Linked DNA regions of Homo sapiens: regions 1, 2, 3, 5, 6 and 7 are each reported to be linked to region 4. The links are microRNA targets in miRTarBase. Many come from high-throughput screens and were not tested one by one. Region 4 holds a microRNA gene; each other region holds the end of a gene's coding sequence. Distances are from middle to middle.

Region 1 (4,077 bases), not on the chromosome of region 4:
CCATTATGACTCCCTGAAGCACAGGCTTCCAGCTCAGAGGGCAGCGCACTGTCTCCACCCCTGCCCAATGATCCACTCAGACCCGGGAGGCTGTGGACAGCGCGTCCTCTGAAATGCTGGTCTCCACACCTGCCTGGGGCTGGGGCACCATGGGTGGATAAAGAAACTGACCAGCAGAAAGTGACTATTCTGCACGTGCAGGCGTGCACACAAGGTAATTACCCACAAGCCTGCAGAAACTCACACGAGCACAACTGCCTCGCTTTCCCATTCATATGTGTGGCACAGCTTACTGGCTGGTGCTAGCATACTACACATAAATACATTTATAGGAAAATAATTAAAATGCTGAAGTCTATCTATTTGAACTTCTTCCTCATCGGTAAAGCTGGGAAAGCTCACTACTGTGTAGCTGGTGCCAAGGAGCAGCCTGAGACCCCGCCTGCAGCTGTCCCTAAGACTTTCCTCTCCCCATACAGAAACCAGTTCTACTTCTTCACTGTTCTTCTTTCTTCCCTCTGGAATTCAGGGGTTAAATCCCTTCCAGGGTATTTGGATGCCTGCAGGAAGGAAACTGGAGAGAGGGCCCAGCCCTGTGCAGCACAAGGCTCCCTGCTCAGTGTGGCACCAGTTGGGCAGCCGTCAACATCTGTGCCAGTGTTGCCACCTGGGCAAGTCTCTGTTCCTGGGGCATGTCCAGGTGCAACATGAAGAACATCGTCATCCTTTCTCGCCTGGTTCACTCCATCGCAGGATGGAGCCCACCAGCAGGGAACCCAGACTTCCTTGACCCAGATGGTGGCTGTCCCTGTATGAGGGCTCTTCAGAAACGCCAGGACAGGCCCAGGGCATTTTCAGGAGCTCTTAGCAAAGCAGCCTCAGTCCGTTTCCTGGCAATACCCTACACTAAACCAGCCTCTGGGGAGAGACCTGTGGCAGGGAGGAATGCAGACGCCCTGCTGGCCTGTCTCTGACCCCTCACATGCTGCACTCATATTAATTTTCCAGGATTCCTGAAGTCCAGCCTCAAGGGATATGTGACAGAAAAAAGGGAATCAAATGCTCTTTTGTCCTATGGGCAAACTTGCTTTAATTTAAAGCACTGTGAGGGCTGAAGGCAGATGATCCTGTCTCCAAGCATGGACTCTGGCCAGAACCCCCTGGAGGGCAGAAGGCAGGGAGCTGTCTGCAGAAGGGCCAGTGGGGTCCACCCCCAGGGGCAGCAGGGATGGTCACGAAGGAAACCATGCCAGGAAGGGCAGGTGGTGGACCTCAGAGAACGGCACAAAATCGTAGCACCCAGACACGAGGCAAAAACTCCTATCTGGTCAGATCCTGATGCACTCCAGGTCCCTGTCTGTCCTGGAGCATTCGTGTGACCCAGCAGTGTCCTGGAGACAACAATGAGGCTGTGGGGGACAGCGGGGTCCCGAATGTTCCTTCTGTATATTCCCATTGACACAGAAAGGTCATAGTGCATTTCTCAAAGCACTGCCAATCTAAATGGTCAGGGGGGGTCTGATAAGTATATCTATATCTGATATGGGGCCTTGCTTTGTCACCCAGGCTGGAGTGCAGTGACACGATCATGACTGATTGCAGCCTCGACCTCCCGGGCTCAAGCAATCCTACTACCTCAGCCTCCTGAGTAGCTGGGACTACAGCTACGCAACTGTGCCACCTCAGAGAAGTAGATTTTTAAACAAACCCAATTTTCTCTTGCTGTTAACAACACTGAAGACTAGTAGCAGAGGAGTGAAAGTGTGGGTTAAGAGCCTTAAAAACTTGTGGAAAGGGCTCGATGCCAGTGGAGAGCACTTAGTTATTTCAGTGAGAAGAGAGCACCTAAACCTGGGTCTGAAAACACATGAAAACTCCAGGCCTTGCTCCCGGCCCTTCTGCACATTGGGGGCGGGGCCAGAGCTCCACTGATGGCCTTGCTCATGACTTCATCTAGAAACTGAGCAACAGGATTTCTAGATTTCAACGCCCAAAGCATCCACCCACCCACAGAGACCATCACACCAACACAAGCATGAATACAAAGTGAAAGCATGTTCTTGGCATGAAAACCATCTACTCACACCCCACCTTGCTCCTAAAGTAGCAGAACCTGTTCCACCAGCCAGGGGTTTATACTCCCTATCTTAATGGGATTAATGGTTTTCATGGGGCCATAATAGACTCCAATTTAAGAGATTTTCAAGAATTGCCATAGAATGTTTTGTGGTGGTTAAAAAGGTCTTCCTCAAACTGTTAGAAAAAGCAAAATTGTTAGTATAGGTTTACTTTAACCAGGCTCTTTTAAAGATAAATGCTGCAAGATAGGTTTTCAGAGCTCAGATTAATTAAATGAGAGTTAAGATCGGAGTCTCAATAAACACTAATGTGCTGTTCTCATCAGATTCTGACATCCTCTGTACTTTCTTCTTGACTTAACAGGGGTCTCCTCTCAACCTTTTCCAAAGCAATGTGACGGTTTCTTTTCCAAAAGGTAAAAAAAAAACCCAAACCCCCAAACCTTCCCCCATTTTGAATGATTCCTGGGGGGAATTCATTTGTTTTTTGCAATCAGAGTCTGAAACCTGGGCTGCAGGTCAACAATCTCGAGCAGTTATGAAAAGACCAGGGTTACTGGAGACCAAGAAAGGAACGAGCGGAGGAAGGAAGGAAGGAAGGAAGGAGAGGGGCCGGGGATTTTGTGCAAGATTTAATAAAAAACAAACAAAAATAGGAATGGTTGCTTTCAACATTTTCCAGGTTGTGAAAGGTTTGCCACGACTCTCAGGGGTGTGGTTCTAAGCTGCATCAGTGGAACAAATACAAAATGCTGTCCTCCTCCTGGGCTGGAAGGCAGTGCACTTTCTCCTCTTAACAGCCAGACTAGCGGGTGAGGAGTCAGTGCTGTGACCCAGGCCAAGCTGGAGTGTCCGCATAGCTTTTTCTCTGACCAGTGGGGATTCCATCTACCTTGAGGCGTGCTGGCTGGGCCCCGTTTCCACACCAGCACATGGTGAGACAGGGTAGCTTATCAACAGGCTGCTGGGCCTTAATACTGACAGTGAGTGTGGCGGGTCACAGCCAGGAAAGGACTAACACAGATGCCCTCCCAGCCCCCACTGCTGGCCTAATTTTAGAATACCACGGAAAAAAGCTTTGATGAAGACAACAGGAAGTCAACACAGCAGAGAGTGGTGTGGACAACCCAGAAGCCAGCCTCACGCATTCCATGCCCACAGTTAACGATGACAACAACAGCAATAATAATAATAATAATAAAACAAAGGTACAGGTGAAAAGCAGCGCTTGGGGTGTGCTGCTGCAAGCTGGGGAAGGCGCGTGCTCAACTTGGATGGGACACACCTAGTCTTTCTTCAAGTCCCTGGATTCAAAGAGCTTCAACCGTTCTTGCACCGTCAGGCCTTCCTTCAGACTCTGGGTAGAGACAGAGCAGGAGGAGAAAATAAACACACCGTTAGACCCCCTGCACTGGACCGGACCGGACCAGACCGGACCGCTGGTGGAGCCGGCATCAGTCAGAGAGCCGGGTGCAGGTGCGGTTAGTGGGCATGCCAGGAGGAGAGTCCCCGGGAAATGCTGTTATTGGAGGATGTTTTCCCCTTCACAAAATTACTTGGATGAAAAAGGAAAAAAAAATCAGAGAGACAAGACCATGTGTTTAAGCAGCTAAATTCTGAGCTTAGGGCTCTTTAGAGAAGCAGTGATCAAACGAATCCAGCCAGGGAAAACAGTGCAATGAGCAAGGAGACTGCCCATCCCCGTGTCTTGTCTTGTGAATGGATTTGTCCACATCCAGCTCCAGAGATTCTTCACCTGACAGCCTCAGCTGAGGAGGACCAGATGCTCCAGGGAATCCCCAGCAGGATGGGTGTCCCGGGACAGGGCCTCGCTCCTACAGTGCCTCCGCAGCACCTGCTGCCCTCAGACCCATTTCTGGCATTCCCTCATCAGAGGCCTGTGAGTGTTATGGGGATGTGGGAACACGCCAACGTATCTAGTAAGATTTTCAAAACATAAAACCAATACTCTGTTCACGTGGAATCTTGCTAAAGCTTA
Region 2 (4,077 bases), not on the chromosome of region 4:
ACAGTACGAATCCTGCAGCTCCACATAGCACAGATTTGTCCCAGACACAAATGCCTGGTTCACTCATTGTCCAAAACACCCCCACCCCCAATGTTCACCCTTCCAGGAGCCACCCTACCAGCAGCTCCCCTTAGTCTGTGCAGGCAGCCCTGGGCCCTCCCTTGGGAGGGTGAGTTGAGGCATGGGATGTGGCCTCACTGCCCTCCTTTCCTCAGAAGGCTCTTGGGCCTGCTCTCTGCAGGGCCTTGAGATGGCCCTGCTTCGTCCTAGCAAGTGGGTGGGGTCGGCACCCAGGCAGGACGCTGTCTAAGGTGTTGAAGGGACAGCTGTCGGACCCACTTAATATGGGGCCTTGCTCTCATTTGGGACAGAATTCAAGAAGACAGACAAGAGTATCTTGGTCAGTCCCACGGGCCCTTCTCGAGTGGCCTTCGACCCTGAACAGAAGCCCCTCCACGGGGTGCTGAAGACCCCCACCAGCTCACCTGCCAGCTCACCCCTGGTGGCCAAGAAGCCCCTGACCACCACACCAAGGAGAAGGCCCAGGGCTATGGATTTCTTCTGAGGAGCAGCAGAGTCCCTTGTAAAAGACTGCTTTTGTACAGAATGCGCTATAAATTATACCTTTAAGAATGTGGGGCCTTTTTTATGATTTTGTAAGTTCCCATAAGTTGTGTGCACGAGGTTCTGAGAGTGCCCGCAGGCTGCTGCGTCCTGGCCCCTCTGTAGTGGCTGCGGGCGTCTTGGTTGAATCTTTTGCTACAAACCATGTTTGCGTTTGAGCTCTCCAGGATTTTACATTTTTGGGTAACCTCAGTGATTCCCATTGGTGTAGGAAATGAGACCCTCTCTGAAGCTGAGGAGAGCACGTTGATCTGAACTTTAAATCAATCAGTGCTGCTGGCACAATGAAAGGTGGAACTGCACTTCTGTTGAGCTCTCAGTTCTGCGGAATTTGGTACTCATTACCGTATTCGCCGTACTAAGTTGGTTTCTGTTAGTCTTAACAGTCTGTTTTCTTTTAAAAGCATGTAGGGCTTCATTGCCATGTTCTGTGGGTGTTTGGCAGGTTACCGATGGGGAAGATTCTTGTCACAGAATCAGCAATACCATAGTTTTTCTACATGTGCTCAGCTGGGGGTGTGGACAGGTAGGGGTGGGGAAAGAAGAGGCTCTGCGTTCTGGGGGCTTTTTCTTCTCCTCCCCCTACCCGGTTTCCCTCCCTGTTTTCCTACCTCTACGGCAAGCCCAAAGTGTCTTCCCGGGAGCCCAGCGCAGCCCCCGGCTCTTACCCAGGACCCCGCCCCGTGCTGAGCCTTCTGCTGAGGTCCTTGCGTGGAGCACACTCATTCCTCCAAGCCCTTGCGCTCCCGTTTCTCTCTCTCTCCGTCCACGTTCCAGCCGAGTCACTGCCTGACCGGCTCCATGGCAGCTCCCCATCTTCCCTAGAGGCTGCCTGCGCATCTGGAGCCTGCGCTCCGGCTCAGCGACCTTTCCTCTCAAATGCGGAAGCGTGCACTTACAGTTCAGACCGTTCTCCTGTAAGTTCATTACAAACACGGGCGGAAGGCACTCAGGCTTTCGTTGGAGAAACAGAAATAAGGCCTTCTTTTGAGCAGCGATTGCTGGATCATTGATCTGTTTGAGGAAGTGTCTGACCTGGGCCTGAGAGCTGGAGAAGGTGCAGATTCAAAGTGAGCGGCTCCTGAGGAGAGCCGCCAAGGCTGCTCGCCTTCTCCGTGGCTTCCGCAGCTACCGTCTGCACGGTGAGAGGGCACGGGCACACGGTTCGGGCTGGCGTGCAGCTCTCCCAGCCAGCCACGCTCTGCTCAGGCCTGGAAGTGAAAGCCGCCTCCTTCCCGTTATGCCCCCCATACAGGAGCCTCGGTTTTTCAGCAAAACGCGGCCAGTCCCCTTCTCCACTGCTGCCTCCCAGCAGAGGGCCCCAGGATCTCCAAGGTCCCAGCTATGGCTTTGGACAACGTGGCTTCGGCCCCTGGGGTTGCAGAGCTTGCATTGGGTTTACCTCGGTCTCATTCATTCATGGAGCCAAGGGTGGGGTTTCACCTGCGAACATCAGACTGACTTGCTGGCGTCAAGAGCAGTTGACTCACTGATGAAGGCCCTGGTGAGGAGAAAGCACTCTGTTCTTCGCCTACTCTGTAATCGTTTTGTCATAATGAGCCATGAAAAAAGTAATGAACTTGTGCTGTTAATCGTCACTGTAATGAGAAGTCTTACGTACAACATAGCTGTGGTGGCTTAATGGCTGCATTAGATAGGATCCTCACATCCCATTCAGAACCAAAACTGATACAGTGAAACAATTAAGGTGAGCAAATAGTTTTAACTTTTCTTTTTTTTTTTTAAGTTTCATTCTTCCTAGAATATTTTTCTAACAATTTTTATTTCAGCTTTAAAGATGGGTCATATAGCCAAACGGGCCATATAATCCAACATTGTTGAGATGTCTTAGGACATCTAAGGCAAAACTGGCACATTTGTTCTGCAGACTATTGCAGGAATGTTTTTTCCTAGCATTTCTATATTATCTGTCCATTCTGAGGAACCAGTGAATGTCCTATAAATGCACCTCCTGTCAAAACCATGCCTGAGAGGTCCCGGCTGGGAGTGACAGGGTGCTTCTTAGATTCTATTGGTCCTTCTCTCATTCTCCGAACTTACTCCTTTTTATGGGTAAGTCAACTAGGTTTACAGTCCCTTATTTTTAATGCCTAAGTTTTGACAGCAGGAAGAAAACAATTTTTTAAAAATTCTCATTACATAGACGCACAAGAATATGTCACATAAAGAAAATGTGTTTAGAATACTGGTTTTCTATTTACGCATGATATTTTCCTAAGTAAAATTGCCAAGTGGACTTGGAAGTCCAGAAAGGAAAATAATTTAAATTAATGCTGGTGATCTTAACAATATTTTGTAAAATGATGCTTCCCCCTTCTCCATGGTCTAGTCAATTTTGTACAATTAGGTATCTGACTTTACAAGTTTGTTATCCTTTCTAATTTTTACTGAACTGAAAGCACAAAGAAGACTACACAGAAAATCTGGAAACAGTTGCAGGTGTTGGGAGGAAGATGAAATCGAGCTGTCTTTTAACTTTTGTATGTGTTTTATCAGAATTTGCTGGACTATGCTGGCAAGGACTTTGTTTACGATCAAATTGTACTAGTGTCTGCAGGGTTTGTCAGTACTCGTCAAAGCCAAGTCCAATTAAAAAAAAAAGTCTTTGCCCTCCAATTTGTGTTTGATGTTGACTTTCAGTATGGGTAAAAATAGGCCTCTTTGGGAGCTGTTCCAGCACAGCAGAGTTGGGAAGATATTGGTGTTGGTCGGGTTTGAAAACAAGACTCTGGGTACCATTCTCTTCATCTCTCTGCTGCTGCCAGAGCCGGTGGGGGCGCTGCTCCGGGGATCGTCTCCAAGTGCTTGAAGCAGGCCTCACTGCGCACAAATGCCCTTGCTCACTATCGTGTCTAAAACATCACTCCACAGGCCTACGCTTGTGACGATGAGCGGAGAAGTGCCAGTGTCCCGGGTGGAGATCTCCCACTGCAGCCCAGAAACTGACTCCAGCTAGGGTGAGGCGGGCACAGGGAGGCTGCAGCTGGGTGAGGCGGGCACAGGGAGGCTGCAGCTAGGGTGAGGCGGGCACGGGTGGGCTGGTACCCAGCAGACAGCCTGTTCTGGGTGTTGGCAGTGGGTGTGGTCAGTGTTGGGCAAGCAGAGTACAGGCATGGCGGAGTCTTTATAGGCCCGTGTTCCCCGAAACAAATTTTTCACCTGTTCTTTGGATCCCAGACAAGTCCACAGACAGACACTGAACAAGCAAGCAAACAAAAACAAACCCTGGGCCAGGCGCGGCGGCTCACCCCAGTAATCTCAGCCCTTTGGGAGGCCTAGGCAGGCAAGTCGCTTGAGTCCAGGAGTTTGAGACCAGCCTGGGCGACATGGCAAAACCGTGTCTCTACAAAAAAAAAAAAAAAACAAATAATTAGCCAGGCGTGGTGGCGTGCATCTGTAGTCCCCGCTACTTGGGGGCCTGAGGCAGGAGGA
Region 3 (4,063 bases), not on the chromosome of region 4:
CAAATATAAAAAGGACTTGCAATGTTTGTTAAATATGGACGGCATGAAGACAATTAAGAAACTATAGGACTTATTTCCAACAAGAATACAATATGCATGAAGTTTTGAAAATGTGACTTTTTACCACAGTTTCTGAGAGTGTAATAGTACTAAATGTTCTAAATGTAATCTTTCAGATCCACGAGCGGTGAAAGTAATGCTGGTTTGGAAAATGAGGTTGATACTTCCTCTCTTAAGCTTCTCAGTGAATGGCTGCTTCTGTTTCTAAGCTGCAGGAACAAAGCACCTCTATCATATAAGCACATAAACACACAACTCAACTATCCAGATACTCAGGGCCACAATCTCAAATCTAGGGCTGTATAAATTCAACAAATTGATGACCTAGATTGCATACATGTGCTAATCTATGCAATATATGATTCACAAGGTTCATCTAATGTTAAAAGTCTAGCTAAGTCTTTAATAATTTAATATTAAATAAAATATTAATTATTTAAAATGGTCACTCATAAAAGAAATGTAGTCATAATAAGCCCCATAATGATCTCCATTCCTCGCAAGGGAAGCTTGATTTGAAACTGGCTTGTAAGTGAATTGACTTGTAAGAGAGGTAAAAATGTGTCTTACATGAATTACTATCCCACAGATATGATGGAACATAATGCTAGTTTGACAATTAGATTTTTCTAACCAATGACTGGGCTTTCACTGAGGAAAAGAGGGATTTCTCAATTATTTTCCCAGTTAGTAAGGGCTGGAGAGAACACATCTAGCCTCTGCTTCTAACTAGTCCTTAATTGTAGCTTCCAAGGGAGAAGCCACGAATCTAACTGGACAGAGCACAATCAGTATGAGACCACCTTGTAAATGCAGGCATGCAACCTTCATTGACAAACAGCGCACATTTACCAGTATCTCAGACAACTGAACATGTGACCAATCTCCTTCCAACTTCCCTCCCCTCTTCCCGTGTTGTTACTCTCCCTACACACACAGGTTGGGGGGAGTAGAGGTAATATCCTGGGATCTACACAAGGGTCTAGCTGTCTTGAATTCAATGAGGGAAAAGAAGGAAAACTGCTTTGGCCCCAGACATAAATCACATTCTTTTAAGCACACAGCAACTTATAAGGAGCTTGCCCAGACTTAATAGCGTTACTCTGCTTCTCATTAAGCTAGTGATCCTCGTGTAGGGGATCCAAAAGTAGGGGAAAGGTGAGTGATATTCTGCACTTTTTTCATACAGAAAAAAACAATGAAGTCTTGGATAGAACGAAAGGACTTAAGAGCCCCAGTGATATTCATCATTAACCAAACAAATGAGTCGTTATATAGGTTAGAAAGGGCCCTGGATCCAGATGGTCACAGTTGAAATGCATATATATTGACAGACAGAGATCAAACAATCTCTTCTGGCCTTTTCTCATTATCTCAGGTTAGCGCCGTTTAGAGCAATAAACTTTTACTGTAGCCACACTTATCCTTGTCCTGGAGAGATAAAGTACGGGATTGATACATTTCAACAGGGAACAAGGCAGGAGTTGAGGGCAAGCAGACAATGCTAACAGCAAGCTTTGGCAGGGAGAGAAGGCAGCCCCAGGTCTGATGTCTGGGGTGGAAGCTAAGGGAAGGAGCCAAAGAGGATACAAAGGAAGACAAGAGAACACTCTTTAGGGATGGCTCTGATTGGATATATTTTTCATTACTGAACATTTCTATGAACTATTATATAGTTTTAATATACTATGTATGTACAAAATGAATTGCATTTCATTCCAAATTTCCACAGATCATAAAGCTCAGAAATTTAGCTGAATCCTAGCAGTTAAAATCAGGATTCATACACAGAGAACCTAAATAGATTTTGTCACTTGTCACTCTGGCTTTTTTCCACAACATGGTTTTTAAAAAGATACAATATGAGCTTCAAAAAAAATTAATTGATCCATTATTTGCAAATACATTACAGAATCTCAGATGATAAAAAACAAACAAACAACCAAAAAAAACAAACAAAAAAGACATATCTTATTCGGACACTTAAAATTTTCAAGTACTTTTGCCTTAAATATGAAAAGGTAAAATACATAGGCAACCTGAGGGCAGGGAAAATACAAGATACACTTTTTAGTTTTTCCTTCTGCTTTTCCAAGAACCACAATCACTCCAGACATCGCTTATGAGAAACAAGGGTGGGCAGAGGATGCTGTGCTGAAGGCAATCAATTCTGCACAGCTCACCAAGCAATTGCTGCACCTGCAACACAGGTATGCCCATGGATTCAGATCAGTTTATGACAGTTACTAAGAAACAGCCCTTGGGTAACTGTTCCTGTAAGAAGCATTCTCTCTTTAGTTTTATATTTAAAAATGTGAGGACTGGATCAGATAATGTGGCATGATGAAAAGACTCATGAGTGGGAGGAACATCCACCAGAAGGTGTCAAAGATCACCACTGCCTGGGTAGCCAAGCTCAACGGCATGGTCTCCTCAGGAGGAACGAAATCCAATCAGAACTATATGGACAGCTAACGCTGCTAGATATTGCTTAGTAGTCATCTCACATAGTAAGTCACTGGAATTACATGCTTATGAATAATATTGAATTTGCTCATATAAAGCTGTCACTGTATCACAAAATAAAATGATTTTTAAAAAATGTGGGTCTCTAGTCTTAGAAGTGTAAATTTTAAATATTAGGGCAACCAACTGAAATAATGGAAGCAAGCATAAAAGCTAAAAAATAATGAAAAGGCTTGCAAAACCTATCACAGCAAGAAAACATGATTATGATTTGGGCTGGTCAGTGTCACACTTGTTTTCAAAGTTTGTACCCCTGAGACAACTGTTTGATAACCATTATACAGTAGGCACAGAAATAAGCATACTTTATCAAACAAAACACTAAATCGCTGTCACTACATTAAAAATTATATTAATTTTTGTGAATGCTGTGGATAGAGGAGAATAATCTTAGAAGTTTTAAAATCTGTGCTTGGTTTTCATCTAGAAAGGAGTAAACGTCAGGCAAATAAACTTCACCTGTTACTTGGACATTTTCTCCCTGGCCTGCAAATCCACTTACAATTCCACCAAGTATACACATGAGAAAACCACAAACAACAGAACAGAAAACAGTTGCGGCGGGATTTGTTTTACATGTACGTACAAGTAGGTATTAGCCTTGAAATGCTTCTTGAAGGTAGAGTACATGAGAATTCTTTGGCTTGATCACAAAGAGCTCCCAATCTTGAGTTTTGTGGATTGAGGATTCTGAGTCACTATACTTTGGCTTTTAGACTACATTAAAAGCACATGAACACTTTCAGTGTAACTTAACATGTAGTGAAGTTCACCTCCTAACAATACTTCACAGGATCCCTCCAAGAATGCCCAGTGCTGATGTAGCAACACTAGCAGTAAGAGCTTATTGAGATGGCTGACTGAAGTGACACGGTGACACTGTTAATCGTTTGGTTTGTTCTGAAAAAAGTTTGTAAAGGACCACCCTCCTCCATTAGATTTAGGAGAGTCTTCATCTTTAGGAGGAATCAAAAATTGTCGGGAATTAATGGAGCATGGACTTCCAAATGAGACAATCTCACTGTTGCTGTCTATGGATCTAGGAGAGTCTGGAGACACTAAATTCCATGTATTTACATTGGCCTGAGGTCTGTAACCCGCAGTTTTATCTAAGTCCTCTTCTGCAGCTATATCTTCCACAGTAGAATTAATGGGGAGGTGCATCTGTGGCTTATAGCCTGCCCCTCCTACAGGGTCATTTTCTTGTTCTTCTTCTGGTTTTGCTTGAGGCTGATACATCGACTGAACATCAATGTAAATAACCTGTGCAGTCCCTCCAGCTTCATCTGCGGCTGGGTTTGGTATTTCTTCCTCAATGATGGGTGGACAATAGGACACAACCACATGGTTTTCAGGCTCTGCATCAGAGCGATCTTCAGGACGCTCAGCTACTGGGGAAATTATTTCTGTATCTTCTATTTTAGGAAATGCTGATCGAGTTTCCAGAACCTCAACATTATTTGGGGTACAAGGATTC
Region 4 (4,077 bases):
TGAAGTTTTATTTATATACTGTCTTGCTTGATCTTCACTACTCTGTGTGGTAGATATTACTATTATGAACACAGTGAGACATACAGAGTATAAATGACATTAACAGTAAATGGAAGAATCAGGATTTGAACCAAGAAATATGCCACAAAGTCTATGTCCTTAACATATTATGCTACCTTCCTTGATAACTGCTATTTTCCCCCCAATTCTAACGTTCAAGCCATGCAAATCTAGAAGTAAACAAGAAATTCAGACAGACTTAAAACAAGCCTTAAATAATCTTCATTATATTTTACTTTGTTATGGTTTAAGCTGTCATTTTTATTAAGTGTTAATTCTTTGTATATTAAGGACAGTTTTTTAAATGCTGCAATAGCAAAACACAAATAATACCTATCAAAGTATATTAACAGAAACATAAAACAAGTTTACTAAAATAACTCATTTGAAGAAGACTACCTCCAAAATATAAAATACTGAATAACATCATTATATGAAATTTCCAATTTGCTAGGAAATAATAGTTGTTTTTTAGGGAAAAGACAATTTTGGTCAGGCAAAATTCTGCCATAATATAAAATAATGATCTCCATTACTTTATAATATATATATTTTCCGTTGAGACAGGGTCTTGCTCCATTGCCCAGGCTGGAGTGCAATGGCATAATCATAGCTCACCATAGCCTTGTACTCCTGGAGTCAAGCAATCCTCCCACCTCAACCTCCTGAGTAGCTGGGACTACAAGGCTTGCGCCACTACAATAGGCTAATTTTTTTTTTTTTTTGGTAGGGATGAGGGTATAGCTATGCTGCCCTGGCTGGTCTTGAACTCCTGGACTCAAGCAATTCTCCCGCCTCAACCTCCCAAAGTGCTGGGATTATAGGCATGAGCCACTGTCCCTGGTCTATAAGACTTTTTAAATACATAATTCTAGTGCTGATGTAATTAATTTTTTTTACTTAAATTTTCTCTACATTTTCCTAAAGTATGTACAATTATCACTTTTAAAGCTGCATAATATGCCAAAATATTAATTTAACAGCATTCACAAATTGTTGAACATCAAGGTTGTTCCATTTTTCTTTTCCTCTTTAATAAGACTGCAATAAACATCTTTCTTCTAATAACATTAAACCTTTCATTTTTTTAATCTGCAGCTCCCACCACAGTGTCTAATTCGTATGAGGTACGTGACAAACATTAGCTAAACTGAATACACTTTTTAAAAACTGTTTTTCAAGCATCGTTTCCTAAGACTAGAATTAATGAATCAAAGAGTATGAACTTCTTATGGTTCTTATAACATAATACTTTCCAAAAGAATAATGTCATTTTATAATCCACAAGATATGAGTGTGTGAACTCGTTCATTGCAATACATGCCAGTATTAGAGTTTATCATTTAAAAAGCTTAATATTTTATTATGTATAATTTGATCTCTTAAAGTGCTTTACCTTGTAGAGAAATAACAATCCTGAAGTTATATTGTCATTACTTCCATTTCATTATTTAACAAAGTACAAAAAGACATGCAACTGTTTATTCTAATTGTGGAAATTCAATTATAAATATGTAAAAACTCTTTAAATGAACATACTCCAAAGTTTATTTCTGACTTGGAAGGTGGCATATTTTCACATTTTAGTAAAATTTGCTTGAGGCCATAATCTAAACCAACTTTGATAACTGCTGGATATAAAGGTAATCTTGTCCCAAAGAGCAGTGAACTCTATTCTCCTTTGAGGGGGTTTCTTTTGGAACAGATAGTAAGTAAAAAGCACTCTAAGAGAATATTTTAAAATAAATAAATTGCTAAGAGTTTACGTGTTTATGATGTCATCACAATTCCTGGTTGAACCAGAATTGCCTATCTATGAAGGAAAAGCTACATTGAGAAAAAGTAGTCTGAGTTTCCTAAAACTCAATTCAGAAATTCAAGTAAATTATCAAAGATTTGAATATTTAAGTCAATTGTGAGGACTTCTGTTTCTTCCTTTAACATCTTTAAAATAACGCATTTCAGGTAATTTTACATTTTTCCCCTTGGTGATTTCAGGAATCAAATTTGTACCTGATGAGAATTGGCATTATAAGCTTTTTAGTATTTTTTATTATATATTGACATGTTTAAAATTGGTAACTCACAGTTTTACCACAATTGGGTGATTCTGCTTTCCTGTCCTTTGATATTATCATATGTTAATAGTCAGAAAACTTGTGATAACTCCCAGTAGGGTTCTTTTTCACTAGCTGGGTTGCAGCACATTCATCACTTTAAAATAAGAATTTACTTTCTGAGATGGGTAAAGCACTGTGCTAGACTCCAAGGAACCATACATAGATGACTAAGACATGACTCCTGTCCTCAAAGAACTTACAATCTATTAAGGGAAGACAGACATGCAAACAAATAGGTATAATACAAAGCAGAATGTGCTGATTGTTAAAACAGAGGTACAAAACAAAGTTCTATAGGAGCACAGGATGGTTATATAGGAGCACTGGTTGGGGTGATCTGGAAGGCTGGGCCAGCGGAAAAGTAGTAGAAAACTCTGCCCCTTAGAAAACACAGCAGTGTTACAGCCCACCTGGGTTAGGGTCGAAGCCCCACTCCCCACAGAAGGTTTTCCTAAAGGAGATGGAGCCAGGGCCCTAACCCAGTTAGGTAGGTGATTCGTTGATTTCAATTATGAATGCCAACACTTTCTTTCCCTGGTGCCGATAAATGTGCTTTCACAAGTATTTTACTTTATTAAAAAGTAAATAAAATTTAACAATCTATTAAGTAACTTACATGAAGACGCAAGTTACCTCAGCCTACAGCATTAGAATGGCCTCAAGTGGTACTCTGATTGTACAGGACCAAGCAAAAAAAGACACCACTTCAGCATCTTACATGTGGTGCTCCCATAAATGTTTTGCTACTGATATCCTAGAAAGAAAGAGGAACCAGACAATTCCAGAGAAGGAGCCTGGGTATTATACTATTCATATTTTGCTGAAGATGCAATTATGTTAAGTTTTAAAAAATATACTTTAAAATATGTTAATGAGACAACAGGATTTGTTTTTGTCTTGTCATGATCTCAAGAAACAGCAGGTACACTGCCAGTTTCCACTAATTTCTAGGTATAAGAGGTAGACAAGATAACGTAACTGATATGTAATATTAAACAAGTACCACACGAGGAGTGAAACAACTAGAAAGAAGATAATAAATACAAACATGTTTAAATACAAAAGAACATAAAGCAAGTATCATGTGCACAGAAATAGAAACATTAAATTTGTAGAAAATTAAAGACAAAGTATTAGTTTCTACTGTTTCATTCTATTGCCATCTCATATACAGATCCCTCAAATTTCTCAAATCTGTAGATATAGTATTTCATTACGCTGTAGGAATTTTAAAACGCTTAACTTTATAATTGCTGTTTATAGACATCCTTAAAGAAGCCAAATTTTAATGAACAAAAAAGGAAACAATAAAATCTCAGTCATATCAACTGTATATAAATGTTTGCAAAATGCTTATGAAACTTAAATTGACTATTTTCTTAATTATTACAAACAAGCATTCTCACTTCACTTGTTTATTAATTTTTACAATCTCCTAAAACAAAAGAAAAAAGGAAGGAAGGCAAGCACACATAACCTGACTACTGGAATTAATGACAATATCCCATTGCATAGACTTTAAAATAAACATACAATTCAAAAAGACTTACTATCAAACAACTGGCTAAGCAAACTATGAAATATGACAAAAAGGTTATAATATCTGTAATAATATAAAGAAAGCTCATAACAAATATAAAAAACTCAAAACCCTAATAAGTACTAAATAACAATTCACTAAAAATACAAGTTGCTCATAAACATGAAAAAAATTCACCCTATTAAAGGAATGCAAATTGAAACAACGAAATATTATTTTCAAATATCCAATTAGCAGAGAAAGAGTAACATTCAATGCTGCATCCCCTTAGGATGTAAAACTCCTCCTGTTTTGGCCAAATATTTGTGTTTTAAAACAAGATAAACTGCAAATAAATAATTAATGCTTACAAGGGTG
Region 5 (4,000 bases), not on the chromosome of region 4:
CCTGATGTGTCTTGCTGGGAGGGATAGGCGGTGGCTATACGCAGGGAGATGTGAGGAGGTGAATTCAGTTATTAATGGTATCTTGTGAGGGTATCTGCAGGTATTTGGGGGCTGCTGGGGGACTGTGCTATCCTCTGACCTAGCCATTTCTGCTTCCTCTGCCAGCTGGAGATTCACATTTTACCTGATTGCCTTCATTGCCGGCATGGCCGTCATTGTGGATGTGAGTGGGGATTACTGGGAGGTGGGAGTAGGTTCTCTGGCAAGGTCAGGTGAGGCCATGGAATTTGGGTTCCTCCTCTTTTAACTTCTCACCATCTCTCTGCAGAAACCCTGGTTCTATGACATGAAGAAAGTTTGGGAGGGATATCCCATACAGGTATGAGTTCTGCTTCCTCATGTGGGGGTGGACTAAGACACACCCTAGTGAAGAGACGGTTTGTGGAATCCATGGCAGAGGGATTAGAGTGATGGAATGAAGAACCTCAGGGGCTAGGGGGTTTGTGGAGTGGGGACACCCTTGCGGCTGGTTGCTCTTACCTCTCTCTCCTCTCCCAGAGCACTATCCCTTCCCAGTATTGGTACTACATGATTGAACTTTCCTTCTACTGGTCCCTGCTCTTCAGCATTGCCTCTGATGTCAAGCGAAAGGTGGGTGAAGGGGTTGTGCAATTAAGCCTCAGAGCCAAAATGAGGCCCTGGGATGAACACCCTCTCCTTTGACTTCTGGGTACTCTGAATGGAGCTGTTGGTATATGGGGAACCAAAGGCAAGGGGTAAGAAGGCATAGTGAGAGCTGGGGAATAAAAAAAGGCCCTGGGGCCTGCATCATCTCTGCAGGATTTCAAGGAACAGATCATCCACCATGTGGCCACCATCATTCTCATCAGCTTTTCCTGGTTTGCCAATTACATCCGAGCTGGGACTCTAATCATGGCTCTGCATGACTCTTCCGATTACCTGCTGGAGGTCAGGCTTCCTCAAATCTAGAGACCCTGGTGCAGGTTCTTCTGTCCCTTTGGTTTTCTTTGGGAGGGAGGTGCGGGGTGGGAATTTGGAGGATGACATTCCTGGGACCAAGGAGGAGGGCACAGAGTCAGTGCTCCTAACTGGAGTGTACATATGAATGTACTCGAGGGAGTCAGGAGCCCATGATGATGGATGGGGGCTCTCTATGCAGTCAGCCAAGATGTTTAACTACGCGGGATGGAAGAACACCTGCAACAACATCTTCATCGTCTTCGCCATTGTTTTTATCATCACCCGACTGGTCATCCTGCCCTTCTGGTGAGTAGGCAGCTAGGCTACACTCCTGTTCTGAAGAAATCAGGAGCCTTGCCTTTCTTCCCCTCCTGTATCTCCCCGGTGTCTGACCTGCTCTTGTCCACGTTCTCTCTCTCCTTGAATCCTCAGGATCCTGCATTGCACCCTGGTGTACCCACTGGAGCTCTATCCTGCCTTCTTTGGCTATTACTTCTTCAATTCCATGATGGGAGTTCTACAGCTGCTGCATATCTTCTGGGCCTACCTCATTTTGCGCATGGCCCACAAGTTCATAACTGGAAAGGTGAAGCCCTGTTCCCATTGTGTAGGCCTTACTACTCTCTACAACTTCCTGAACTCCCATCTTGCCAGTAACTCTCTAAAAAACTAGTGTGGAGCCCTGGGTATAACAGGAACAAGCCCTCAGAGAGAAGCAGTACTTAGGGGTTTGAGGATCTCATGTAATAACCCTTCTTGTCCCTTTTCCACAGCTGGTAGAAGATGAACGCAGTGACCGGGAAGAAACAGAGAGCTCAGAGGGGGAGGAGGCTGCAGCTGGGGGAGGAGCAAAGAGCCGGCCCCTAGCCAATGGCCACCCCATCCTCAATAACAACCATCGTAAGAATGACTGAACCATTACTCCAGCTGCCTCCCAGATTAATGCATAAAGCCAAGGAACTACCCCGCTCCCTGCGCTATAGGGTCACTTTAAGCTCTGGGGAAAAAGGAGAAAGTGAGAGGAGAGTTCTCTGCATCCTCCCTCCTTGCTTGTCACCCAGTTGCCTTTAAACCAAATTCTAACCAGCCTATCCCCAGGTAGGGGGACGTTGGTTATATTCTGTTAGAGGGGGACGGTCGTATTTTCCTCCCTACCCGCCAAGTCATCCTTTCTACTGCTTTTGAGGCCCTCCCTCAGCTCTCTGTGGGTAGGGGTTACAATTCACATTCCTTATTCTGAGAATTTGGCCCCAGCTGTTTGCCTTTGACTCCCTGACCTCCAGAGCCAGGGTTGTGCCTTATTGTCCCATCTGTGGGCCTCATTCTGCCAAAGCTGGACCAAGGCTAACCTTTCTAAGCTCCCTAACTTGGGCCAGAAACCAAAGCTGAGCTTTTAACTTTCTCCCTCTATGACACAAATGAATTGAGGGTAGGAGGAGGGTGCACATAACCCTTACCCTACCTCTGCCAAAAAGTGGGGGCTGTACTGGGGACTGCTCGGATGATCTTTCTTAGTGCTACTTCTTTCAGCTGTCCCTGTAGCGACAGGTCTAAGATCTGACTGCCTCCTCCTTTCTCTGGCCTCTTCCCCCTTCCCTCTTCTCTTCAGCTAGGCTAGCTGGTTTGGAGTAGAATGGCAACTAATTCTAATTTTTATTTATTAAATATTTGGGGTTTTGGTTTTAAAGCCAGAATTACGGCTAGCACCTAGCATTTCAGCAGAGGGACCATTTTAGACCAAAATGTACTGTTAATGGGTTTTTTTTAAAAATTAAAAGATTAAATAAAAAATATTAAATAAAACATGGCAATAAGTGTCAGACTATTAGGAATTGAGAAGGGGGATCAACTAAATAAACGAAGAGAGTCTTTCTTATGCCTTCCTTGCAGTTATGTAATATTTTCTTTTTTAAATTTCACATGCATGTAATTTGAGCACTTTGAGGGGCCAAGGAGGGTGGATCACTAGAGGTCAGGAGTTTGAGACCAGCCTGGCCAACATGGCGAAACCCCATCTCTACTAAAAATACATCTAGCTGGGTGTGGTGGCGGGCGACTGTAATCTCAGCTACTTAGGAGGCTGAGGCAGGAGAATCACCTGAACCCGGGAGGCGGAGGCTGCAGTGAGTCGAGATTGCACCATTGCACTCCAGCCTGGGTGACAGAGCGAGAACTCCATCTAAAAAAATTCACATGCAAGAAGCAAAGGTAGACAAGGTAGAAGATGAATGACAGCAGCCCACAGGGGAGGATGGGGATAATACCTCACTGAAAGATCCAGAATTGGGAGTATCGGGCTGAGAGAGAGAAACAAAACCACAATCTTAGTTTTATCATATTGTTAAAAGACTTTCAAGAAATAATACAAACTGGAGATAGTAGATACACAGGCTCCATTCTAAGAACAAAGTCTGTTAGAAGCAGGAACACTTGGACAAATATGGGATGGGAGGGATGTCAGGCCGAGGTTAGAGTGGTGATCTCTCCCCACCCTTTAGGGCCTTTGGAGGTGGAGAAGGGATCCTGCCTGCTAGCACCACATTGGAAGGGATCATCTGGTCCAGAACCCCCATTTCTATCAACTAGGAGCTGGGGGGAGTAGCTAGCCCAGAGACTTCGGGTCAGGGTTCAACAATCAGGAAGACCCAGTTCCTGAGGAAACGACAGTTCAAGAAGGGTTGGGAAGAAGGCTGTCCTCTAAAGAAGACGTCCTCTGCATTCAATGGCCCCACAGCAACAGAGTAGCTCCTTGCCTTCCACACTGCCCACCTCGTAGTTGTAGTCCCAAGTAAGTTCTGTCCCAGCCCGGATTCTTCTGAAGAGGAAGAAAAGGATGGTGTGTGGCAAAGACAGCAGATAACCCAGGCACTTGGGGTTACTGAATATGTAGGTGGAGTTGGATCATGAATGGAGGAGGGGCCCTTAGAACTTCAGTGGTCCTTGCCCCTCCCCAGTCATCCCCTTTCCTGACTCCTTACTTGCTGGCAAAGAAGGCCACCCAGGGGAAGCGAAGATCATG
Region 6 (4,073 bases), 51 Mb from region 4:
AAAAACAGAACTGTTGTATGGGTACTTGAAGTACAGTTTCTAGTGAATGTGAATCCCTTTCACACCATCGTAAAGTTGAAAACTCCATCGTAGGTGGGATCATAGTAAATTGGGGACCGTCTGCATGTGTCTACTTGAGGTGCTGAAAGAATTTCTTCTCTCATAGATCATATTTGGAGTCAGGAGGAACCTCAGAACATGGGTCCGTGGTCGTTTGTTTCTCCAAGGTTTGAAAAGCAGCTGGCCTGCAAGGTAATCACACGTTTTCTCTGGTAGTGTTTTGTGTTTTGTGTGCATGTTGTTTTTCTTTTCTTTCTTTCTTTCTTTTTTTTTTTTGAGACAGAGTCTCACTCTGTTGCCCAGGCTGGAGTGCAGTGGCGCAATCTCAGCTCACTGCAAGCTCCGCCCCCCGGGTTCACGCCATTCTCCTGCCTCAGCCTCCCAAGTAGCTGGGACTACAGGCGCCCGCCACCACACCCAGCTAAATTTTTTTTGTATTTTTAGTAGAGACGGGGTTTCACCATGTTAGCCAGGATAGTCTCAATCTCCTGACCTCGTGATCCGCCCACCTCGGCCTCCCAAAGCGCTGGGATTACAGGCATTGAGGCACGGAGCCCTGTCCCTCTAATCTCTTCTGCGTAACTCATTATTTGAAAGAGGTGATTTATGGTTAAACAAGCTAAGAGAAATACATGCACTGTCTTGTTGGAACTAAGCAGAGCTCTGATCTAGTCAAAATGTCATTTTATTTCTTCTCTGCTGCACTTATAGCTCCGTCTGGTGGGCCGGCCCCCTTTGCCAGTACCCGCTGTAGGAATTGGCACAGTTCACTTGCACCAGCATGAAGATATCCTCGCCAAGACCTTCGCTTGATGATGACTTTTGAAGAAACACTATTTCTCTTTAAGAAAATGGCCATTAAGGCCGGGTGGGGTGGCACATGCCTGTAATCCCAGCACTTTGGGAGGCCAAGGCTGGTGGATCACCTGAGGTCAGGAGTTCGAGACCAGCCTGGCCAACACGGTGAAACCCCGCCTCTACTAAAAATACAAAAAATAGCCGGGTGTGGTGGTGGGCACCTGTGATCCCAGCTTCCTGGGAGGCTGAGGCAAGAGAATCGCTTGAATCTGGGAGGCGGAGGTTGCAGTGAGCCAGGATCACACCATTGCTGTCCAGCCTGGGTGACAGAGCAAGACTGCGTTTCAAAAAAAAAAAAAAAAAAACCCATTAAAAGAGGCCTCCTTCCTCCACTCTCTCAACCCCTCTGTTGGGTAACATGAAAAGACTGTATTCCTCTAAGATGTTGGGATTGATATACGTGATTTAATCTGCAATAGGTGGAATAACCAGGGGAACTGGTTATGAATATGTGAATGCAACCAGCAAATTTATCCTTGAAGGTGTGATGGTAGAAATAGGAAAACAACAAAAGAAAAACAATAACAAAAAAAGAAAGTGTGATGGCTGGGTGCAGTGGCTCACGCCTGTAATCCCAGCACTTTGGGAGGCTTAGGCGGCTGGATCACCTGAGGTCAGGAGTTCAAGACCAGCCTGGTCAACGTGGTGAAACGCCGTTTCTACTAAAAATATGAAAATTAGTTGGGTGTGGTGGCATGCGCTTGTAGTCTCAGCTACTCCGGAGGCTGAGGCAGGAGAATTGCTTGAACCTGGAAGGCAGAGGTTGCAGTGAGCCGAAATGGCGCCACTGTACTCCAACCTGGGCGACAGAGCAAGACTCCATCTCATAAATTAAAAGGAAAGTATGATAGTGTTATGGATTTTAGCTCTGAGTGAGCTGGAAAACTAGGTCATTATCTAGATGATTTCAGACTTGACCCTAATTGACCATATATGACCAGGAAACACTTCTGAGTTTACAGCTCCGTGGAGATGACCTCAACACTGCCTCTTGATTTGTTTGATGCATGTCACTTTCATTAATTTTCCCCCTCCTTTTTGAAAGTCCTGTGGCAGTACTAATATTTTCATTTTATGTAATCTCTGGTGCTGCTTTCCAGTCACTGTATGAAGTGTCTCCCCAACACTAGCAAATCTAGGTCCTACTAAATACAAATCTCTGGGTGGATGATCTTCTAGTACTGTATTTTTAAATTAAGGAGTTTTAGTTATAATGAAATTGATTTGTAGTCTGTTTTGCCGTAAACTTGTTTTTCTTTAAATTGTTCTTACAGTGATATCTTACTATTTTTAACTGTCTGGGGTTTCTGATATGGGGATTTCAGCCCCTGGTTAATCAGTCTTGTCCCTACAAGTCCCTGATGCAGTATGTTTATTTGTGATGTTTAAAGAACATTTCTTGGCTGGGCGCTGCGGCTTGCGCCTGTAATCTCAGCACTTTGGGAGGCTGAGATGGGTGGATCACCTGAGGTTGGGAGTTCGAGACCAGCCTGACAAAACATAGTGAAACCCCGTCTCTACTAAAAATACAAAAATTAGCTGGGCGTGGTGGTGGGTGTCTGTAATCCCAGCTATTCGGGAGGCTGAGGCAGGAGAATCGCTTGAACCCAGGAGGTGGAGGTTGCAGTGAGCTGAGATCCTGCCACTGCACTCCAGTCTGGGTGACAGAGCAAGACTCCATCTCAAAAAATAAATAAATAGAAAGAGAGAGAGAGGAAAAAAAAAGAAAAGAACACTTCTTTATTTGAGGGACTTTCCCAACACCAGGTGCTTGGGGATTTCTTAGAGATCACCAACCGACTCCCTCACTGTGAAATTAAACCAAGTACTGGAAACGTAACTAAACAGCGAACCATGTAGCTTCACCTGACTCAGTGCTGGGGGCCTCTACCATCTACTGTGCTTGTGTCATGATGCTTTTTCTCTGAAGTGGTGTGGGAAGTACCAGGGGACTGGCAGAAGCCCAGGCCCTCTCTACTTTTACCAGCAACTGATCATGTCTTTCAGAATCCATGTACATATAGGCTGTTCTAGCCACAGTGGTAGATTTATGATTCACATCCGAAAGTGTGCCTTAGTTATCAATTTAACATTTCTCTAGTATTCATATCCCTTTTCTTACCATATACCTCAGTGTATCCTTCCTGTGTCAAGCCTTATAAATCATGTAATTTAGTGCCACTCATGTAAATCAGTAAAATCACAAAGGTCTATTTAATGAAAACGATTTACCAATGTTGTTTTTTTTTAACAAGAAAAAAAATAAAAGCACATTGTCATTTTTTTTCCTCAGGACTCCTGGACTTCTTGAATTAAAAGATTTCAAAAGTCTAAGCACAAAAATGAGATGGAAGATTAGATCTTTGTAAAAGGTTAGTTTAGGCTGGGCGTGGTAGCTCACGCCTGTAATCACAGCACTGTGGGAGGTCAAGATGGGTGCATCACCTGAGGTCAGGCATTCGAGACTAGCCTGGCCAACATGGCTAAACCCCGTCTCTTACTAAAAATATAAAAATTAGCAGGGCATGGTGGTGCATGCCTGTAATCCCAGCTACTTGGGAGGCTGAGGCAGGAGAATCACTTGATCTCGGGAGGCGGAGGTTGCAGTGAGCCGAGATTGCACCACTGTACTCCAGCCTGGGTGACAGAGCGGGACTCTGTCTCAAAAAATAAAAGGTTACTTTAAATCTCTCCGAATTTCTTTTGAGACAGAGTCTCACTTTGTCGCCCAGGCTGGAGTGGTGCGATCTCAGCTCACTGCAACCTCCACCTCCTGGGTTCAAAAGATTTTCCTGCCTCAGCCTCCCGAGTAGCTGGGACTACAGGTACGTGCCACAGCCAGTTTTTTGTATTTTTAGCAGAGATGGCGTTTCACCATGTTAGCTAGGATGGCCTTGATCTCCTGACCTCATGATCCGCCCACCTTGGCCTCCCAAAGTGCTGGGTTTACAGGCGTGAGCCACTGTGACTGGTGGATCTCTCCAAATTTCTAATTTTACACCTCACAGTCTGTTCATGGTTTCTTTTTATGTCTTCTCTAACTCGAGTCATGAAATGTGTCTTCTGTTGGCTTAACCTTTCTACTCTCAATCACTACTGCAACATGGATCAGCATTTTACATTCCCTTGCAGGGAGGGACCATTTGAGGAATTCC
Region 7 (4,077 bases), not on the chromosome of region 4:
AAAGGGGTTTGCCCGGGTCTTCCCTCCCTCACGTGGGACAACGGGAAGTGGCAGGAGGTGACCTAGAAGTGAGAATTCACCATTGTCATGAAGTGACGTTTGAGAGTGATCTGGAGATTGATCTTTCCTTACCCCTTTCCCAAACAGCCGCCACCAACGGCCCTCCAGTGCTTGTGAAGAAGGAGAAGGAAATGGTGGGGGCATTGGTGTCAGACGGGCTGGATCGGAAGGAGCCCCGAGCCGGGGAGGTGATCTGTATAGACGACTGACTGGATCCCAGGCCTGCCCTTCACCCAGGCCCCGTCCCCGAGGCCGACCCCCAGCTCAAGCGCTGGGGCCTGCTGCCAGCCCTCCACCTTCCCCACCCCTTGGGCCATCACTGGGCTAGGAACCCCTTTGCCCCTCTCTGCAGCTCCTCTCTTCAAGAAGGGCCCTTTGTCTTTCTCCACTCCCACACACCTTTCCCACCAAGCCTTGAAGACTGTGCTGGTGAGAAGAAGTCTGGGTGGGAGATGGCTGGCAGGGTCTTCCAAGTACCTTCCTCCCACACTGCCAAGTATACACAACTTCCCAGTAAATGGTTGTGGGGAGGAAAGAGGTGGAGCCTCCCCAGCCGTTTCCCTGCAGAATCAGCTCTGTCTCATGTGGAAGTGGAGAATCAGCCTTGCCTGGCCTTTAGGAACTTTTGTGGGGAAGAGAGCTTTGAAGAGAGGAGGGGGACTTTAGAGAGGGATGAAAATGAGCCCTGGGAGGGAGGAAGGGACGAGGAGGGGTGGCTGCATGTTACCGTCCCCTACCTCTCCCCACGTGGAGGGTGGAGCAGTTATGAGGGAGGAAGTCAACTGCTGTTCAGCCTCAGAATAAAGGTGCCGTTCACTGGCTCAGTTACCTCCTGTGTACCGGCATCTTGTGTTGGGAATGTTCCCCCCTCCCTAGGGACCAAGGACCACCCCTACAAAAAGAGTAATGGTTGGGTGATACTCCCTCAAGCCAAAGAGGAGCTCCCCAACCTGTTCTAGGGACCCAGGTAACCTAGAAGGGTGGGAGAGAATACAATGGGCCAGATGTGGTGGAAGCCCAGCTCTGGGGCTCAGGTTCCTGGAAGACTTCTACTACCCTCCCTCCTCAAGGCCTGGATACAGACTAAATTTGTATAAGTCAGGCAGGGGACCTAGTCAGGGTCTTGGGAGCTACCTTGTCGTTGGGACCAGAGCAAAATAGTGGAGGGCAGGCTAGGGAAATGTGGGCACATCCCCCCTCCCAGGAGGGGCCGGGGAGAGTGGCAGTTTGCATGGCGAACCCCCCACTTCCTCTTTGCTGCCCCTTCACTTTCTTGCTGCCCCTTTCCCAGTCTCTCTTCACACCCACTCCTGGTCTGTCCTGATCCCCTCTTCTGTATCAGGTTTATTGGTTGTACATATAAATTATACTTTCCTTTCTGTGTGCTCTGTTATTTTTTATGGGGGGGGGGAGTTTTTGGGGGGAGGGATAAGAAAGGTTGTTGCTTTCTGCCTTTTCTTTTTAAAAAAATCCTACAACTTTTTCCTTTTCCTCATTTTTATCTCTTAGATTATTCACTAAAACTGAGGTTCTTCCAGCCCCAGCTATGTCATGGCCTCTGTAGAGAAGGAGGGTGAGCAGCAGATACCTACGTAGCCTCAGGTTGACTTCAGAGAGAGTGGGACTTACTGGACAGAAATGTAGTGGGAGGAGCGCCTATCAAGATTCAAAACTGCCTTCCAGCCATCCTTTTGATCATCCTTTCCACCTTCAAGTTGCTTAGTTCCCCTAAGAGTCAGTAGAGGTCACTACAGCTCCACAGGTTCAGCTCCAGTATGAAGCAAAGGCACACTTTTTTTTTTTTTTTTTTTAAGGCGTTGAGGGTCAGATCTGTCTAGCTTACCAAAGATTTGAACTGCTAGGCACTTCCTTGATGTTTATTGTTCACTAAACAGAGCCTCTGAGAGATTGAGAGAGGCCAGACACTTAGTTCACAAGGCTATTATATTAAAAAATAAGAGATAAAGCCAACAAATATTTATTGAGTACATACTATACAGTAACACTGCTGTTGGCCCTGGAGATAAAACAGTCACAGGTCAGCCCTTGCTCCCATAGGGCTTACACTCCAGTGGGGACACCCACAAAGCATGAAAATAAAAGCAGTAAAAATAAAACAGGGCATTATGTTACAGAGGGGTGGGGGAAAAGGCTCTACTATGTTGAAGGCAGAAAAAGGCCTCCCAAAAGAGGGAGCATTTAAGCTGAGATGTAAGGACAGGAAAATGCCAAAATAGGGTTACAAAAATTGAGGTTTATACCCCCATAAGTGTATAATTATGATTTGTCAATCAAAAATATTTATATTTTAAAAAGATTGGAGGCCTCTAAAAAATTGAGGTTAATAATAAGTTCACATTTTTAACTAAGAGAAAAATGTTACATAGTAGGTTAGGATTTCTTTAGCAATAGAATGTTACTTTAGAACTTTGGGGCCGGGCGTGGTGGCTCACGCCTGTAATCCTAGCACTTTGGGAGGCCGAGGCAGGCGGATCATGAGGTCAGGAGATCGAGACCATCCTGGCTAACACGGTGAAACCCCATCTCTACTAAAAATACAAAAAAATTAGCCAGGCGTGGTGGTGGGTGCCTGTAGCCCCAGCTACTTGGGAGGCTGAGGCAGGAGAATGGCGTGAACCCAGGAGGCAGAGCTTGCAGTGAGCCGAGATCACGCCACTGCACTCCAGTCTGGGCAACAGAGCAAGACTCCATCTCAAAAAAAAAAAAAAAGAACTTTGGATAAAATAATCTATCAGTCATACCTATTATGCTTTAAATATTCTACCTACAGATGGTGATATCCTAAAGAGTGTAGGATCTAGACCAATGGTACTTAAATTTTCACATGCACACACATCACCTGGGATTGTTAAAATGCCAGAGTCTGGCCCGGCGCGGTGGCTCACTCCTATAATCCCAGCACTTTGGGAGGCCAAGGTGGGCGCCATCACCTGAGGTCAGGAGTTTTGAGACCAGCCTGACAAACATGGCGAAACCCCATCTCTACTAAAAATACAAAAATTAGCCAGGTGTGGTGGCAGGCGCCTGTAATCCCAGCTACTCCGGAGGATGAGGCAGGAGAATCGCTTGAACCTGGGAGGCGGAGGCTGCAGTGAGCCGAGATCACGCCACTGCACTCCAGCCTGGGCGACACAGTGAGACTCTGGCTCAAAACAAAAACAAAAAAACAAAAAACCCTGCCAGAGTCTGATTCAGGAAGTCTGGAGTGGGATCCTAGAGTGAGACTGTGCACTTCCGTTGACAGTACACCAACACTGCTGGTCCTTGACTATGACTTTATGGTCATAAGATACAGGATTCTAAAATAGAATACATGGCATATATACAACAGGTGATGTCCCATTATGGGACACAAATTTTAAAGACACTTAAAATTGTATAAGTATCTTTTCAGTAGCGCTAGTGTGTTCCCGTGACTGTAAAGATAACACAGATAATAGCAAAAGTTTGAAATATGATGCCTTTCAAATGGCTCTCCCTTCCTACTTTGATAGGCTCTAATTAGGTGCCTCACATAAATGCCCTTTGGAATTTCTGATACCTGCCCTAGCAGGTTGAAGGGAGATTCTGAAATGAAGCAAGGCTCCTAATCATAGTCACAGGCAGGGAGCCATCTCAATTTCTGGAACACAGAACTGGGAGTGGGGAGACAGCAGGCATACCAGCACCCTTACATGCCAGAGAAGTGAGATTAACATGACGCGAAAATTAGCCTCTTCTCTCCCGTTCCATCTTAAAAAAAAAAAAAATTCAAACCATTGACAAAGAATTGCTAAAATGGGACCTGTTGCTCCCACACACCAGAGCCACCCTGGACAAAAGCCAACGTCCCAGCTAAGAAAACAGTCTGTCTTCTTCCCACGGTAACGTAGGCTTTGTTTATATCATCCCTTGGCCACTCCATCCTGAAAATGTAAGACTGGCACAGTCAGTAGATGGGGGCGAGTTCGTCTAGGAGCCTCCCCAACTCAGCATCAACACCTCCCAGGGCGTTCC

The links. Region 4 holds the annotated microRNA hsa-miR-1296-5p (UUAGGGCCCUGGCUCCAUCUCC, at 2,637-2,658, opposite strand). A microRNA usually pairs through its seed, bases 2 to 8, with sites in the 3' UTR of a target mRNA and lowers its output. Matches are read on the target gene's strand: a 7mer-m8 pairs with bases 2 to 8, a 7mer-A1 pairs with bases 2 to 7 and ends in A, and an 8mer does both.
Region 1: the mRNA of MPRIP is a reported target of hsa-miR-1296-5p. The part of its 3' UTR that is shown has no 7-base or 8-base seed match.
Region 2: the mRNA of RRP1B is a reported target of hsa-miR-1296-5p. The part of its 3' UTR that is shown has no 7-base or 8-base seed match.
Region 3: miRTarBase lists LIFR as a target of hsa-miR-1296-5p. Seed matches in the 3' UTR shown: 7mer-A1 at 2,700-2,706.
Region 5: miRTarBase lists SETDB1 as a target of hsa-miR-1296-5p. Seed matches in the 3' UTR shown: 8mer at 3,476-3,483.
Region 6: the mRNA of DHTKD1 is a reported target of hsa-miR-1296-5p. The part of its 3' UTR that is shown has no 7-base or 8-base seed match.
Region 7: miRTarBase lists CHD3 as a target of hsa-miR-1296-5p. The part of its 3' UTR that is shown has no 7-base or 8-base seed match.

Annotation. Positions count from the first base shown.
Region 1 is chr17:17,184,181-17,188,257 of GRCh38, reverse strand. It overlaps MPRIP (myosin phosphatase Rho interacting protein), which reads right to left. Exons shown (of 24, transcript NM_001364716.4): 24 at 1-3,435. The coding sequence ends at 3,364. Among named protein-coding and RNA genes, the nearest start is that of PLD6, 20 kb to the left of the region's middle. RefSeq lists enhancers at 1,870-1,939, 1,970-2,169, 2,957-3,457.
Region 2 is chr21:43,692,819-43,696,895 of GRCh38, forward strand. RRP1B (ribosomal RNA processing 1B) reads left to right here. Exons shown (of 16, transcript NM_015056.3): 16 at 372-3,261. The coding sequence ends at 565. Among named protein-coding and RNA genes, the nearest start is that of PDXK, 24 kb to the right of the region's middle.
Region 3 is chr5:38,478,127-38,482,189 of GRCh38, forward strand. It overlaps LIFR (LIF receptor subunit alpha), which reads right to left. Exons shown (of 20, transcript NM_001127671.2): 20 at 1-4,063. The coding sequence ends at 3,469. Among named protein-coding and RNA genes, the nearest start is that of EGFLAM-AS5, 12 kb to the left of the region's middle.
Region 4 is chr10:63,370,376-63,374,452 of GRCh38, forward strand. MIR1296 (microRNA 1296) reads right to left here and starts at 2,673; the gene lies at 2,582-2,673. All of the region lies in intron 2 of JMJD1C (jumonji domain containing 1C), which reads right to left.
Region 5 is chr1:150,964,043-150,968,042 of GRCh38, reverse strand. It overlaps SETDB1 (SET domain bifurcated histone lysine methyltransferase 1), which reads right to left. Exons shown (of 22, transcript NM_001366418.1): 21 at 3,960-4,000; 22 at 3,306-3,796. The coding sequence ends at 3,679. CERS2 (ceramide synthase 2) reads left to right here. Exons shown (of 11, transcript NM_022075.5): 5 at 166-223; 6 at 329-379; 7 at 559-651; 8 at 841-969; 9 at 1,181-1,287; 10 at 1,414-1,567; 11 at 1,755-2,857. The coding sequence ends at 1,895. Among named protein-coding and RNA genes, the nearest start is that of CERS2, 8.8 kb to the left of the region's middle. RefSeq lists cis regulatory regions at 2,554, 3,190 and enhancers at 2,481-2,625, 3,118-3,262.
Region 6 is chr10:12,120,016-12,124,088 of GRCh38, forward strand. DHTKD1 (dehydrogenase E1 and transketolase domain containing 1) reads left to right here. Exons shown (of 17, transcript NM_018706.7): 16 at 167-252; 17 at 772-3,206. The coding sequence ends at 873. Among named protein-coding and RNA genes, the nearest start is that of SEC61A2, 7.6 kb to the right of the region's middle. RefSeq lists enhancers at 1,624-1,763, 1,824-1,873, 2,614-2,703.
Region 7 is chr17:7,911,317-7,915,393 of GRCh38, forward strand. It overlaps CHD3 (chromodomain helicase DNA binding protein 3), which reads left to right. Exons shown (of 40, transcript NM_001005273.3): 40 at 148-1,439. The coding sequence ends at 269. RNF227 (ring finger protein 227) reads right to left here. Exons shown (of 2, transcript NM_001358699.2): 2 at 2,023-4,077. Among named protein-coding and RNA genes, the nearest start is that of RNF227, 2.9 kb to the right of the region's middle. RefSeq lists an enhancer at 3,691-4,077.